Linked DNA regions of Homo sapiens: region 2 is linked to region 1. Evidence: fine-mapped expression QTL. A gene starts in region 1. The other region holds a variant in brackets. All regions are shown on one strand. Distances are between the middles of the regions.

Evidence for each region. PIP is the estimated chance that this variant, and not a neighbour inherited with it, causes the effect.
Region 2: its variant is fine-mapped to the expression of KIAA0319 in testis (GTEx, PIP above 0.99).

What each region holds. Positions count from the first base shown.
Region 1 is chr6:24,641,665-24,650,007 of GRCh38, reverse strand. KIAA0319 reads left to right here and starts at 3,817. Exons shown (of 21, transcript NM_014809.4): 1 at 3,817-4,272. It overlaps TDP2 (tyrosyl-DNA phosphodiesterase 2), which reads left to right. Exons shown (of 7, transcript NM_016614.3): 7 at 1-29. RefSeq lists a silencer at 3,763-3,972.
Region 2 is chr6:24,579,196-24,587,538 of GRCh38, reverse strand. KIAA0319 reads left to right here. Exons shown (of 21, transcript NM_014809.4): 5 at 3,837-3,935; 6 at 5,193-5,290; 7 at 6,526-6,613; 8 at 7,589-7,681. Among named protein-coding and RNA genes, the nearest start is that of KIAA0319, 63 kb to the left of the region's middle. The variant A/T (reference allele first, on the strand shown) is at 3,963.

The DNA.
Region 1 (8,343 bases):
AGAAATTTAAATAAAGAATTTTATTTGTTTATGGTTTGTTTTAGTATGTTTTTGTGTCCATGATGAGATTAAATTTTTTATCTGCTTCCTGCTTCTGGCTCTACTGCTGCTTCTTCCTCTTTGTGTAGAAGAAAACAGATTTCCATTTGCTTCTCACTCCACCAAGAATTACCAAGAATATATCTGCTTCCTTTGTCTGAAAAAAAGCCAGCGAGAATAATTAGAAGTAATAGAATCTTATTTATATCAGGAGTGCCAAAATTTAAACACCTAAAAAAAGATATTTATATATAATATTCCCTTTGTAGTGACAACGAAAAAGTTTAAATGTTAATCATAATTTTAATCATTAAAAATAAAAAATGAGGGCCGGGTGCAGTGGCTCACACCTGTAATCCCAGCACTTTGGGAGGCTGAGGCGGGTGGATCACGAGGTCAGGAGATCGAGACCATCCTGGCTAACACGGTGAAACCCTGTCTCTACTAAAAATACAAAAAATTAGCCGGACGTGATGGCGAGTGCTTGTAGTCCCAGCTACTCAGGAGGCTGAGGCAGGAGAATGGCACGAACCCAGGAAGCAGAACTTGCAGTGAGCCAAGATCGTGCCACTGCACTCCAGCCTGGGCAACAGAGTGAGACTCCATCTCAAAAATAAAATAAAAAATGAGAATAGATGTTAATAGTAGAGTAGCATACATCATAGAGGTAATACAATAGTACATTTCTGTGGGAAAAGGGTTATTCTGGCATAAATTGCTTTCATTTAGAAGAGCTAAGTTAGAACTTCAGATCACATTGCAAAACATAGATGGGTGAAAGTCTAAATTCTTAAAAAAAAAATACAGTGTAGTATACTAGATTAAATAAAGGATTATCGGCTGGGTGCAGTGGCTCATGCCTGTAATCCCAGCACTTTGGGAGGCCGAGGCAGGTGGATCACCTGAGGTCAGAAGTTCAAGACTCGTCTAGCCAACATGGTGAAACCCCATCTCTACTAAAAATACAAAAATTAGCCAGGCGTGGTGACACGTGCCTGTAATCCAAGCTACTCAGGAGGCTGAGGCAGGAGAATCACTTGACCCTGGGAGGCGGAGGTTGCAGTAAGCCGAGATCGTGCCACTGCACTCCAGCCTGGGCGACAGAGCAAGACTGTCTCAAAAAAAACCACTTTTAGTCTGCTTTCATGAGCAATAGTTATCAATGAATTAACCTACTAATTTGCTATATCTTGAGTTTTTTACTTGGAATTTTTCAAAGTTTTTCCAGTGTAGTAGCTTTGCTTGCCTTACCTTCCTGCTTAGTGAAATTCCAACATAGAATCTTCTGGGTTTTTTTTTTTTTTTTTTTCAGTCTCAACCTCCTGGGCACAAGTGATCCTCTAGCCTCAGACTCTTGGGTAGCTGGGATTACAGGTGTGCACCACACACCCAGCTACTTTTTATTTGTTTTTGTTTTTTGTACAGAGAGGATCTTGCTATGTTGCCCAGGCTGGCCTCGAACTCCGGGGCTCACTCAATCCTCCTGCCTCGCCCACAAAGTGCTGGGATTATAGGCATGAGCCACTGTACGTGGCCTAAAGTCTTGTATTTCAATGAGGCAGCACTGTCATTACGCTAAGCACCATTTTTACCACTGATGTGGAATGTACTTTAACCTTCCTAAACCTCAGTTTTACCCACCCTCAAAATAAGTTATCTTTTATTGTACAAATGTCCCAACCAAAAGCATAAGCAAGAGCAGACAAAGTTAATTATACTAAGGATACATCATTTTATCCTTACTACCTCTTGCAGTGTCTGGCATATAGTAGGAGCTCAATGGATGTCCACTGAATGCTGAAAAGAAGTGAAAGGTAGTAGCCTCACATCTGTGTCCTAAAGAAGGAGACTAACATTTTCATACAATACCAAAATAGATATATTCATTAAAAATGAAAATAGATATTCATTACAGTGTCTCTGAGTTAAAAAGATGGTATAGTTAAACATTCTGGGCTAAGCCTGTGTGTGTGTGTATGTGCTAAAAATATGTTTCTTTAAAGGCTAATCAGCCAAGGATCGTTGGGGACAAAATCAGATTCATTGGCTTGATGCATTGAAAGAGTACCTGTGGAATGCCATGTGAGCACAGAAAGGAGGAAGTGTCTTTTGTAAAGATTTGGCTTCCTATTAAAGGATTCCAGGGAGAGTCTTGGAATCAGAGCTGGGATCCAGTTGGTTGCTGTTTCTGAGGCAGATTGAGAGAAAGGGGGATTAATGAGGGATTGGGTGCTGTCAGGAGGTGAAGGGAGTTTAGCAATTGGGTATCCCCAGTTATGGATGGGAATAGTAAAGCAAAGGTAGAAAGTAGTAGTCATTCAAAAATGGAACACAAGGAGTTGTGTTGTTTTGTACCTGCTGCGTGACTTCAGAGGAAACAACATTGCCTGTTAATTTTGCTTCTGACTTTGTCCTCTCAGCCTGATCATTGATCATTGGCAGTACTAACTTTTCCAAGTCCAAGCTGATTTTCACTCTTTGAGTCCTGGACAGGTTTTTACTCTTTAGTTTTTATTTATTTATTTATTTATTTATTTATTTATTTATTTATTTATTTATTTATTTTGAGACGGAGTCTTGCTCTGTCGCCCAGGCTGGAGTGCAGTGGCACGATCTCGGCTCACTGCAACCTCCGCCTCCTGGATTCAAGCGATTCTCCTGCCTCAGCCTCTCAAGTAGCTGGAACTACAGGCGCGGGCCACCACTCCCGGTTAATTTTTTGTATTTTTAGTAGAGACGGGGGTTTCACCGTGTTAGCCAGAATGGTCTCGATCTCCTGACCTCGTGATCCGCCCGCCTCGGCCTGCCAAAGTGCTAGGATTACAGGCGTGAGCCACCGCACCCAGCTGGTTTTTACTCTTTAAATGTGCATTATCTTATTTGATTCCCAGAATCATCCTATATGAATGCTATTATCTTCATTTTATAATTGAGGAAACAGGTTTATCTAGATTAGGTAACTTGTCTGAGGCTCTTCGGTAAATACGAGTAGCCAAGAAGCTTATTCATCAACAGTGTGTGACTCAGCCCTAAGCACTGCACTTATACCTCCTAGTAATGAGATGTGCGAGGAATGCCCTGGCTACCTTTTCTGCTCATGATATTATCCCTAGATGCTTTCGCATCTTTATTAAAACAGTAAAAATGCAAGAGTCTTCCACCCAAGTTTTCTGTGGTTTAGATTATCACGTTCCTCAAGATGCAAATGTCAAACTATACTGGGCATCCAGTTAACCTGCAAGGCCTGGAGGTGATGGGAGCCCCTCCTAGCACAGGTTCCCAGTCTCAGTCAGAAAGCACCTGCTCAAAATAGAAAGATAATTACAGAGTAGGGGCCAAAGAGACTCCCACTGGAAGAATGGAACTTGTGTAGCTGGGGTGACACAAGCTGGGGACAAGCTGGGGGACACATTCGCGAAGGGTGTTTGACCCAGGCAGTGCACCCACGGCTCCCTTGAGCCACCCTGGCCCGGGTGTTTATTTGGAAGGAGTGTTCATCCCCCAGACTGTTTAGGGCCACGGTGACAGGGAAGGGCTTGGTGAAGGAAAGCAGGTAGGGTATGAAGGCCGCTCAGGTTCACGAAAGACTTTTGCTTGGTCCCCTGCGGGGTGGGAGTGTGTCGCCCCGGTGCGGGTACTTAGAGCGCAACCGGGGAGCTGAGCAGGGGAGCTGAGCAGGGGAGCTGGGCAGGGGCGGCTGCCGCGCCCCACATCCCTGAGGGCGTGTGTGCGCGTGCGCGCGCGTCGCCGTGGTAACCGCGGCGGCGGAAAGGCGCTGAATCACTGGCGCGCGCTTTCCCCGAGCCTGCAGAAGCTGCCGCGGGCGGTGGGCGGGGATCCCCCGGGGGTGCAACCTTGCTCCACCTGTGCTGCCCTCGGCGGGCCTGGCTGGCCCCGCGCAGAGCGGCGGCGGCGCTCGCTGTCACTGCCGGAGGTGAGAGCGCAGCAGTAGCTTCAGCCTGTCTTGGGCTTGGTCCAGATTCGCTCCTCTGGGGCTACGTCCCGGGGAAGAGGAAGCGAGGATTTTGCTGGGGTGGGGCTGTACCTCTTAACAGCAGGTGCGCGCGCGAGGGTGTGAACGTGTGTGTGTGTGTGTGTGTGTGTGTGTGTGTGTGTGTGTGTGTGTGTAAGACCTGCGATGACGACGAGGAGGAACAAGTGGGACGGCGAGTGATGCTCAGGGCCAGCAGCAACGCATGGGGCGAGCTTCAGTGTCGCCAGCAGTGACCACAGGTACGGTATCTACTTCCCAGAGCGCCTGGCCGAGAAATAGGAAAGAGGGCAGCCAGTAGGCAGGCCAATACCCAACAAAAGTAGAATCGAGACGCCCTGAGTTCAGAAGGTGAGTTTCTTAAGATTCTTCTGGGCATTCAGGAAAGGGCATTTTTTGATTGCTGCACTGATTGTTGACTAGTAGGGTGGAGTCGGGGAAATTTGAGTGTCTTTTCCCAACCTCACGAATTGCATTTTTTTAGAAGTAAGGAATCGTTTTCTTTAAACTTCATTCAGAACTATTTATGTGATCTTTCCTATTATTTGCTAAATGCATTTTGTCTCTGTTCCTTACCATAACCTGAAGCTTAAAATCTTTCTCTTCTTCCCTTTGAATTCCCTCCAAGGAATGTCACAAATTAATCGGGAGGATAAACCTGAAATTTTGAGAGTTATCATCTTAAGGTCATTTGTTAATTAAATACAAGGAGGAAAAATATGATATACATACTCATGTGCACTTTTATTGCTGGTTTGTTCATCAAAACATTTTTGTTTGTCGGTGAAATGTTAGTATTTTTTCCACTGCTTGAATTGAAAAGTTGAATGATGTTTTTGATAGTAACAGAAAAAATAAATTGTAGACAATGTTCCCCCCCACACACAAGAATTTTGGAAGTAAATGTTGGTATTTATTTCTTTATTCCTGAAATACATGCTCACTTTCCAAATGCTTCAATTTATTATAAGAAGACCACAATTGTAGAGACTACTAAAGTTATGCCAAATCTAAACTTTTATTTTGTGCTTTTTTTAGTATTATTTTTAATTCAGATGAGGAAAACTGGAGGTGTCAGTTCAGTTATAGACGTAGGAGTCACAGAGAAAGGTGAATTCCTCTGTAATTTGAAAAAGGGAAATGTAAACATATTACCTAAGTACTCTGATTTATTTGTATTAACCATTTGTAATGCATTTGCATTTGTAATGCAAAATGCCGAGGCAAGAACTTAATTTTTGTTTCGAAATAATGAAAATAATTCAGCCAAAATCTTTATGAATTAAAAATAGCCAAAAGAGAGCTTTGGTAATGTATGAATGTAAAAGAATAGAGTTGCTGTTAAATTTTCTTGACTTTTTTTTTTTCCCTAGCCAATAGATAGGAAGCATTCTCTTTAAATAAATACAGTAAGTCCTCACTTAACATTCTTGATACGTTCTTGGAAACTGTGAACCTTTAAGCACAACGAGGTATAAGGAAACCAATTTTACCACAGGCTAATTGATATAAACAAGAGTTAAGTTCCTACAGCATATTTCTGGTCATAAAAAAATCACCAAACTTCTAAATAAAGACCACAACACTTCTAATATTAAACATAGAAATAAATGGGATCTATACATACAGTTAAGAAGGATTAGTAAAAACAAGATCATTATTTACCCAATTATTACAGTTCAAGGTCATGGGTAGCCAGAGTCTCCCTGGTTCAGAGTGGGAACCCCCCCCTCTCCCCTGTCCAGGAAGCTATCCCATCACAGGGTGCACTTTCACAGACACACCCACTCACTCAGACGGGGACCATGTAGACATATGCACAGCTTTGGGATGTGAAGGAAACCGAAGCCCAGAGAAAACCCACGCAGACATGAGGAGAATGAGCAGACTCCACATAGACAGTGGCCCTGGCCAGGAATTTTTTTGTCACCAACGTTGAATGAAACTATGTTATTGAGGCACTGCTGTATGTAGAGCCAGGTATGCCCGTTTCTGGAACGGAGTGCTGCAGATTGCCAGGTCAGAGGGTGTGGGTTTGGGCGTGGCTCTGCCACTTAGTGGCTGTCTCACATTTGGCAAATTCTCTAAACCCTCTAAGGCTCAGTTTCCTCACCTGTAAAATAGAGATAACAATGGGACCTACTTAACGAAATTCCTGTAAGAATTAAATACAATAATATGTTTAAGAGATCTTTGCTCATTGCCTGGCATGTTTTAATAGTAACGCTTCAATAAGTGTTGTTATTTTTGAGATGTGTTCTTTTTCAGGAAATATTTTTCATACCTTAAAAATAATTTGGTACTAAAAAATAGATTTATTTTGACATGTCCAAAGCTTGTTCTGATTTATGATATCAAATCATCATAAAATGCATAAATTTTTCCTTGCAGCACCTTTATAACAGCAACAATAATAAATATAATAATCAAAATCATAAAATCATGTCAATTTAATATTCTGGTAGCTTAATACCCCCAAGGAAGGAGCTTTGCTTTAGTAGGCCTAGAATAATTGGTAGGTTATTTTTCTATTTGTTTTTAAAATTTTTTTTATAGATTTAGAGTGTACAAGTGCAGTTTTGTTATGTGGATATATTGTGTAGTGTCAAAGTCTGGGCTTTTAGTGTACCCATTACCCGAATAGTGTAGGTTATTTTTCTATTTGTCTTTAAAAATCTGTACCTTTAGACACTATTCATGTGAATTCAATAATAAGAAAATATTTTCTCATTTATTTGTATTAAACAATAAAAATGGTTGAGCCAGAGTAACATCTGGCATCATCATTTTGCAGGGTCTTTTAACAGTAGGTGTTTAAGTTTTAAAGTAGAGCTGCTTAAATGACACCAGTAGGTAAAGATAATAGTGTTCAAGTTTTAGTTATTTTTCCTTCTAAATAATATTGTAGAATTATCCTGCCTGCCAACTTGCTGGTCATTCTTTTCCTTAAGTTCAAAAAAGCAAAGGAGGCTGGGAACGCGGTGGCTCATGCCTATAATCCCAGCACTTTGGGAGTCCGAAATGGACGGATCACCTGAGGTCAGGAGTTCGAGACCAGCCTGGCCAACATGGTGAAACCCCATCTCTACTAAAAATACAAAAATTAGCCAGGCATAGTGGTGGGCGCCTGTAATCCCAGCTGAGGCAGGCGAATCACTTGAACTCCGGGAGGCGGAGGTTGCGGTGAGCCCAGATTGCCTCACTGCACTCCAGCCTGGGCCACAGAGCAAGACTCTAATTCAAAAAAAAAAAAAATGCAGCAAAGGATTATAGTAAGCATCTATTTAATTTAAGCAATGTAGCTTGAATAAGAGGATAATTCAGGCCTAAAAATGAATTTTCAAAGTTGGGGTCATTCCATGCTATTAAGCATCAGAATATAAGCATGGAGGGTAAATTAACTCCAGCGTTGCCACCCATAACACCCATACATTTTAAGCATTACAGTTGATAGGATGTTTATTCATGTGATGATGGGGAAGTATGGGCTGTCCCTTCCCAGGATCACAATCCTGTTCTGTTATTCTAAGATTGTGATTATGTCAGCATACCTTACCATCTTTTGTTTTCATCATTAAGATGAAGTACATGATGTGTAGCTGCACTGTCTTGTAATCATTGTAACAGAGTTACCTTCAAAATTTTTTCAAAATAACCCTTTAAAATGTCTTTCTTTTCTTTTCTTCTTTCTTTCTTTCTCTCTCTCCTTCCTTCCTTCCCTTTCTTTCTTTTCTTTTTTTCTTTCTCTTTCTTTCCTTCCTTCCTTTCCTTCTTTCTCTTTCTTTCTCTCTTTCTTTCTTTCCCTTACTTCCCTCCCTCCCTCCCTCCTTCCCTCCCCTTCCCCTCCCTACTCCTTCCTTCCTTCTTTCCCTTCCCTTCCCTTCCTTTCTTCTTTCTCTCTCTCCTTCCTCCCCTCCCCTCCCCTCCCCTTCCTTTCTCTCCCCTCCCCTCCCCTTCTCTTTCTGACACGGTCTTGCTCTGTCACCCAGGCTGAAGTACAGTGCCACGATCTTGGCTCACTGCAGCCTCTGCCTCCTCCCACCTCAGCCTCCTGAGTAACTGAGACTACAGGCGCATACCACCAAGCCCAACTAATTGTTATAGTTTTTATAGAGACAAGATCTTGCCATGTTGCCCCGACTGGTTTTGAACTCCTGGGCGCAAGTGACCTGCTCACCTCCGCCTCCCAAAGTGCTGGGATTACAGTCATCAGCCACCATACAAGGCCTAAGATGTCTCATTTTCAAGAAAACTGTTTTTACCATCTCTCTCAGTATATTTGTATTGCTTAAGAGGCTAAAATATTTTGTTAA
Region 2 (8,343 bases), 62 kb after region 1:
GGAGGCCGAGGTGGGTGGATCATGAGGTCAGGAGATCGAGACCATCCTGGCTAACAGAGTGAAACCCCATCTCTACTAAAAATACAAAAAATTAGCCAGACGTGGTGGTGGGCGCCTGTAGTCCCAGCTACTTGGGAGGCTGAGGCAGGAGAATGGCATGAACCCGGGAGGCAAAGCTTGCAGTGAGCTGAGATCATGCCACTGCATTCTGTCCAGCCTGGGCGACAGAGTGAGATTCCGTCTCAAACCAAAAAAAAAGGAAAAAAAAGAAAATAGTGTGGAGTTGACTAGAGGCAACAAGATCCATGAAAAGGCTATGGTGAATGGTTGCAGAGATGGAGGGAAGGAACCAGATTTAGGAGACAGGAAGGGAGCAGAGTCACAAAGATTTGATAAGTGATTGAATGAATGTAAGGATGTGAAGGAAGAGGACGCTAAGACATATGAAAATACAGAACTAAAATTAGATGAGCAGTTGGGCTGAAGATAAAGGATTACGAGTCATCGGTGTGGAGGTGATAGTTGCAGACACGGGGGACATAGGAGATCATCCAGGGAGAGAGGGGGGTTAGCTGAGGAGAGGCCTGAGGACTGGAACTTTGGGGACATTGTTCTATAAGGAGCTGGAAGTGCAGAAGGAGCCTGCAAAACTGATTGGGTAGTTGTGCCAGAGAGGTAGGAGATAAAGAGGAAAGCTAGAGGGAGAGAGTTCTATGGAGGAGGATAGAATAAGTTTCCATCTACCCTTCTAAGTTCTAGGCTAGTGCCCCTGTAACAAAAGATAGATTAACAAGAGAGAAAAAAAAAACAAGTTTATAACATGTACATCTTACCTATACGTGGGAGATGCCCAGGGAAATGAGGAAATCTCAGAGAGGTTTATTATATAAGCTTATATTATATAAGCCTGGAACTCTGGCTTATATAGCATCTTGAACTAAAACAAGGAAAGAGGATTGTGGGGAAGGCAAGTGGCCAAAGGTGCCCAGAATAAACGAAGTAAGCAAGAGTGAGGTTCATTATGCAGATTTGTCAGGACCTTCTCTATGGATGTGGATCTCTTGGAATGTAGTCACCCTTCTCTTCCTGGTATAGAAGGAGAGAGACCCTTACAAATGGAGATTTCCTTTATAGATATAAATTCCCCTTACAAAGGAGTAACTTCTACTCTGTTTTCAGAGCTCCTCTTGGTCTGCTGTTTCTTCAAAACAAACAAACAAACAAACAAAAAACACAGCTCAAAATAATCCTTGTATAAAAGAGTTATAGTTGCAATGGCATATTCTAGTTTCCTACAGTCTGTGAACCAAAAGTATCTGAGACAGGTCTCAATCAATTTAGAAAGTTTATTTTGCCAAGGTTAAGGACTCACCAGTGACACAGCCTCAGGAGGTCCTGATGACATGTATCCAAGGTGGTCAGGGTACAGCTTGTTTTTTTTTGTTTGTTTTGAGACGGAGTCTTGCTTCGTGGCCAGGCTGGAGTGCAGTGGCGTGACCTTGGCTCACTGCAACCTCTGCCTCCGAGGTTCAAGAGATTCTCCTGCCTCAGCTTCCTGAGTAACTGGGATTACAGGCACCCATGACCATTCCCGGCTAATTTTTGTATTTTTAGTAGAGACAGGGTTTCTCCGTGTTGGCCAGCCTGGTCTTGAACTTCTGACTTCAAGTGATCCACCTGCCTCAGCCTCCCAAAGTACTGGGATTACAGGTGTGAGCCACTGTGCCTGGCCACCTTGGTTTTATACATTTTAGGGAGACATAAGACATCAATCAGTATGTGTGAGATGTACATTGGTTTGGTCCAGAAAGGCATGACAACTGGAAGGGGGTCTTTCAGGTCATAGGTATATAAGAGACAAATATTGCATTCTTTTGAGTCTTTGATCAGTCTTTCACTGAATACACAATTTACTTGCCAGAGGGGGTAGAGGAATAGTCACTTATGCCTTGTCTGGCTCAGTGAATCTGTATTTTTTCATAAACAATAGGGCAGAGGAAACAATTAGATATGCATTTGTCTCAGGTGAGCAGAGGGATGGCTGAGCTCTTTCCCCCACCCCCTGCACCTGTGAAGATAAGCTATTGATTTACATTGCCAGGGTGAAATTCAACAAAACTGTTTTAGGGCAAAGATCTTGAGGCCCACAAGGAGTTTCTTGTGGGCAAATTATAAGGAAGGCATGTAGCTTTTTTTTTTTTTAATCTTTGTAGGTATCTCGTTTAGGAATAAAATGAGATGCGGGTTTGCCTGACACAGTTCCCAGCTTGACTTTTCCCTTTGGCTTAGTGATTTGGGGGTCCCGAGATTTATTTCCCTTTCACAAATCATATTTTGGGGTGGCATGTTCTGGTCTCCTGTAGTTCCAAAAGGGAAGACGTATCAAAGCTCCATGTGTCGCAGAGGCTGTGGTGAGGATTGCAAAGCTTCCATTAGATTTTCCAATAAGGAAGTTATTAGAATATGCTAGACGTAAGGGTCATGTTTCCTGAGCTTTTCTGTGGGCCATGTATTTTGGAGATTACTCTCTCTAACTTTTGTATTTACTTTGAGCCTGAGCTTCCATAGAGAGAAAGATAATAGTGGGAGAGAAGCTGTGTAGTATACGGAAAAAGAAACTGGCCTGGGAGTTTGGCCCAGGATCTTTGGGTTTTAATAGAACCTACTGCATACAGTTGTAATGAGGATTAAATGAATTGATCATTTTAAAGCCCTTGGGGCAATGCCTGGCACAGTTTAATCCGGTATATAAGTGTTTGTTGAAATGAATACATTTAAATTAAATATTGGTGGACCTATTGCTAATTACCATACAGCCTTGGACAACTTTGCTTTTCTAGGATTTAATTTCCCCACCTATAACATGATAGGTTTGGATCAATGTCCCTTCTAGGTCTACAGTTGCTGACTTTCAGGATAAAGAGTTAGTGAAAATGACAAGAGAGGAGCCAGCAAAGCCACTGAGAGCCTCTGCAGCTGATCTAGGAGGCACTCGAGGGACTGAGGACTGAGAGGAGGGGAGTGGATTAAATGAACAACCTGTCTGACATCTCCTTGCAGCTGATCCCTCTGGAGCACTCAGCTTTTTTTTTTTTTTTTTTTTTTTTAAATCTTTGCTTTTCTCTGTGTAGTATCTGGACATATCGCAATATATTTTACAAGTGAAACTAATGTCCAATGGAGCCAAACCGATAGAATTTATGAATATATCAATGTAATCTGGTTACAGAGAAAGTAAACAAGTATTGTTCTGAATGCTTACTTGGTGGCTAAGCACTTTTGATAAGAGTTAATGTTCCTGCTGCTTAAGTTAAAATAGGTTTTTTATATTGAGGGTGACTGGATTTTGTCTTGGAAAGGTTCCAAGTACAAGGCCATTAGCAGTAATTCATGAGGCTACTATCAGAACTGAGTGGAGTGTGACTAATGAGACAGAAACACTTAGGATTACACTCAATCTTTTTATAACTAAAAATAGCTCACACCAGGGCGTCAAGAAAAGCTGATAGCAAGGGAGAAAATGGACCCAATTCACAGTTGCATGAAACCTGTTTCACGCAACTCTTGTCACTCAATACGTTGCTCAGTCAATTTGAATCATTATTTTTGTCACAGTGCCAACTCATATTTGTGGTTTAAAACCCTGTACTATAATATAGTGTACAGTTCAATTTCTAGCCAGAGGAAAAACGTGCCTTAGCTAAAATCTTATGAAGAACTATTACAAAAGCATATGTTATTTTAATTTATGGATACCAAAAACAGATCTAGTGTAGAGCAGTAATGTAACACATTATATTATATAATTGCACGTATTATTTCTAATTAACTTTTAGTGAAAGAACTTACGGTATCGGCTGGAGATAACCTAATTATAACTTTACCCGACAATGAAGTTGAACTGAAGGCCTTTGTTGCGCCAGCGCCACCTGTAGGTGAGAGTTTAACCTTCCTCCCTGACC[A/T]CTAGGAACTGGGGTGTTTTTCTTCAGCAGGTCCTTACAGGCTATTTACAACGCCGATTCTTTTTCACAGTATTGCACGACGTCACAAACAAAGGTGGAGGACAAGGCTTTGATTATTCTTAAGCATCAACATTTGTTGAAATAGTTTCAAATGGAGTAAGAATCTAGGAAATTAAATACAGTATATATCGTTTAATTGGTCAGGATGGAAAGTCATAAATTTCTGATGATGCAAAGCAGATCAGGAGAGGCTGCCACGTACCAGTTCTTGAACTGTAATAACCCATAGAACCTGGGAAGATTCCACCGGGATGAGAGGGAAGTGGCGTGCACCCATAGGTTTGTTTGCAGATACTGTGGCATTGACAATCACGGCTCTCAGGTTCTCAGGATGCCTCACACTAGCTGCTCAAAAAAATTTATTCAAAATGCTCTTTCTTCTACTTGTCCAGTGCTCTACCATTCAGTAAGCATTTGACCTGGGACCTGTGGCCTGTCAAATGCATTGTTTTTAAGGTAAACTCATTCTTAAGGTGTTTGACTATTTCTCATTCAGGTTAGTTCCTTAATTCATTTTTTTCTCCACCACATATTGGTCAAAATTTTATACACAGAGATGATAATATTTGGCATTTGCATTTTAATCCTTTGAGGTGAGGTACCTTATATTTTAACTACTAATATCTGCAGCTGGGAGACAGTTTCATCTTAACATAGACATGTTTATACTGTTTTTGTGTCCTTAAATAAACCCCTACAACAGATCAAATGAATTGAAATCTCCTTGCCTTTTGTTAAAAAGAGAAAAGCACAATGTATTATACTATGTTAAAACTGATATGGATAGTCAGATGTAGCCCCCTAGGAAAAAACTCATCACATACTAATGGTTAAGTTAGGGAGGTTTTTTTTTTTTTAACTTTATACATTTTAAAAATTTCCTGTAAGACGTATGTTTTTATAACAAAAAAAGAAATGTTACATTAAGAAGATACATGTTATCTTGGCTGATAGTTGAAAGTCAAGTTCATAAGATGATAACAAGAGTGAGGGGATAAAAACAAATAAACAAAAAATATATATATAAGTTAAAAAAAAAAAAGAAAGCTGAGTTGAGTATATCTAAGGTAATCTGCACTGGTGGTTTAAAGGCTGTCATCTTCCCTCTGCCCAGGTTATCTAGTGTCCTCTCAGAATTTATAACTACTCATATTTATTTTTTGCTCTCAGAAACAACCTACAACTATGAATGGAATTTAATAAGCCACCCCACAGACTACCAAGGTGAAATAAAACAAGGACACAAGCAAACTCTTAACCTCTCTCAAGTAAGTAACTGGAGACTGGTTGTGTCTAACAGCACAGCGTAACGGCATAGAGCTCAGTTAATACCTTCTTAGCTACTGAACCCAAACGTCTTTCTTCTTTTTGGGGACAGAGTCTTGCTCTGTTGCCCAGGCTGGAGTGCAGTAGCGCAATTACAGCTCACTGCAACCTCTGCCTCCCGGGTTCAAGTGATTCTCCTGCCTCAGCCTCCTGAGTAGCTGGGATTACAGGTGCACGTCACCACACCCGGCTAATTTTTTTGTATTTTTTGTAGAGGTGGGGTTTCGCCATGTTGGCCAGGCTGGTTTTGAATTCCTGACCTCAAGTGATCTGCCCTCCTTGGCCTCCCAAAGTGTTGGGATTACAGGCATGAGCCACCACGCCCAGCTGCAAACATCTTTCTCATGGTAAGATCAAAAGTAGGATATGAATGAATAAAGTTTCAGGCATGCAAGTAGGCAGGCAGATGGTTAAGAGGCTTTGGATGGCGTTTCTTTATTTGGGTTACTTAGTATATCTCAGTTTGGGGAAAAGAGCCTGGTTGTCCCACAAGCATTGCAGAGAGGTTAAAAACCTGTTGTAACTCTTGCTCTCCTTGCAGTGTTAAGGACATTCTACTTATCTCTGGTTCTCAGTCCGGCACATCTCTAGAGTTGCCAATAATTCCATTCCAGGTCACAATTTGCCCTATCACATATTGTTCTATGATACAAGCACTCACAAGAAACATGCCCTCTTTCTGGCCTAGGAGGATATATAAACCGACTTAGCGACTAGAGATCTAGTCTCCTACCAGATGATTATGTTGACTTCATCTCCTGGGACCACACAGCTAATGGTACAACACAGACTTGCATCACCCTCATGTCATGGAGCTGTGTTTCTCAAAGTGTGGCATCCAGACCACCGGCAACCAATGCACCAGAGCTAGGTGGTAAAAATGCATGGTTCCATACACACATTTGAGAACTGCTGCCCTCTGCTGGTCCATCTCACCCAGGCCTCTTTGAAGCCCTCTGCAGCGAAGCTAAAGGCCTGTCTAGGTGATCTTTAGTGCTCCAGAATTCAGGCTTCAAACATGCGGCAGCCTCTTGACAGATCCAAATGAGACTGTCTCCTGAGCCCCTTCTCTATGCTGACTTTAGGAGTGCGGCTTCTGGGACATTTTAGCTTTTTCTACGTAGTGGACCCATCACGTCTTGCATGTTGAACTGTACAACTTTTCTTTATGTTACAGTTGTCCGTCGGACTTTATGTCTTCAAAGTCACTGTTTCTAGTGAAAACGCCTTTGGAGAAGGATTTGTCAATGTCACTGTTAAGCCTGGTAAGCCGGTGTAAGAGAATGACCTCCTGTTGTACATATTTATCTCAATTTTTGGTGCCTGGATGACTCTATATCTGTCTACCTATCTACCTAGAGAGACAAAACCTATTTTGTATTAGGCTCCATTGTAGAGAAAACACGCAAAGATTATATTTTTGGTTTTTTTTTCTACCTTTCGCATAACACTTTGTACTTGCTTGACAAGGTTATTGCTGGCTGCTCTCGAATGGTGGCAAATCTACCTTAGCCCTCTCTATCTGACATTTACACCATCCACTCTAACTTCTACCTCCACTCTCCGTGATTCAGCTTCACCTTCGAAGCAGGGGCATGTTGAATACATTCAACTGAGCAACCAAGAGGTCAGGGGAAAATGTATGCCCATCGGTCAGTGCATTCATGTGAATTAGAAACAGGTGGTTCTTGGGCTGGGTGGGCACAGCCCTGGCTTGGTGAGTAGAACATGGGCTGGCTTTCAGCCTCCACCAACCCCTCACCTGTGCTGAGGGCACAACCGACCCAATCAAGGTGAACCTCCCTTGTACCCACTTCAGCCCACCCTGAGGGCCTGACAGCTCTATCTTTTGCATATGGTTATGGGGGGTGGGGGGGGGAGTTGCCTTCAGTTAGAGATATAAGATCCACTCAATCCAAGGAGCTGGAACTGTAATCCCTTCATCCCTTGCTCCTGCTCTGTAATTACTGCTCACATTCTGTGATGAGCCCCTTGGTTATTATTGTACATCTTCACTGAGCCTGGGCTTACATGCAAAAGTGTAAATGTCCAGACAAGCTCCTGAAATTCATAGAGAGACTCCAGACTTTAAAAAGTGCTCTCCATAGTTGAGGCCTGTAGGATAAACACCTTCTTGACAGGACATGTATAATCAATTTTTTAAAGTAGATGATTTTATGTGGGTAATGACATATGCCTACACAAGATGGGCTCAGTCACTGTCCTTTTTTTTGTTACAGCCAGAAGAGTCAACCTGCCACCTGTAGCAGTTGTTTCTCCCCAACTGCAAGAGCTCACTTTGCCTTTGACGTCAGCCCTCATTGATGGCAGCCGTGTGTATCCTGAGATAGTTTAGGGATTTCTTTTTTTCTCTACGTGCTACGAAATGTAATGAGTGCTCTGCATCAAAGCTAGGAGGACTTATGGGCTGTTACTTTGATAAACGATCACCTCCTTCTTTAGTTTTATGTCTTCTTTAGTTCCTTTAGCTCCTCTATCCTGTGCTTATTTTCCCTTCACCTTTCGTCTATTCTATTAGAAAGTTCTTTAGCGCCTGGCCATTTGATAGGGAATTAGAGCAATTATTGAAGAATCTCCTTCTGGTGTGGTATATATGGTTAGCAGTTGGAAAATCACTTTGTGTATATATATATGTATATATATATAAGATATATAAGATATATATGAGATATATAAGATATATGAGATATATAAGATATATATATGAGATATATAAGATATATATGAGATATATAAGATATATATATATATATATATCTTTATATAGAGGAGCTCCCGTGACCTGACTTGGGAGGGGAGGTGCCCCCCACCAGATGGGAAAATCACTTTTAAGAACTCTTAGAAGGGATGTCTTCAGTGAGGGAGCGTGGTGGTTTTTTAAAATTCATTCAGAGATCGTTTCTTCTATGGGAGTATATGTGGAAGGGGCCCCTGTGTTAACTACAGGTGTCCATGTAAATAAGAATAGGTTGAA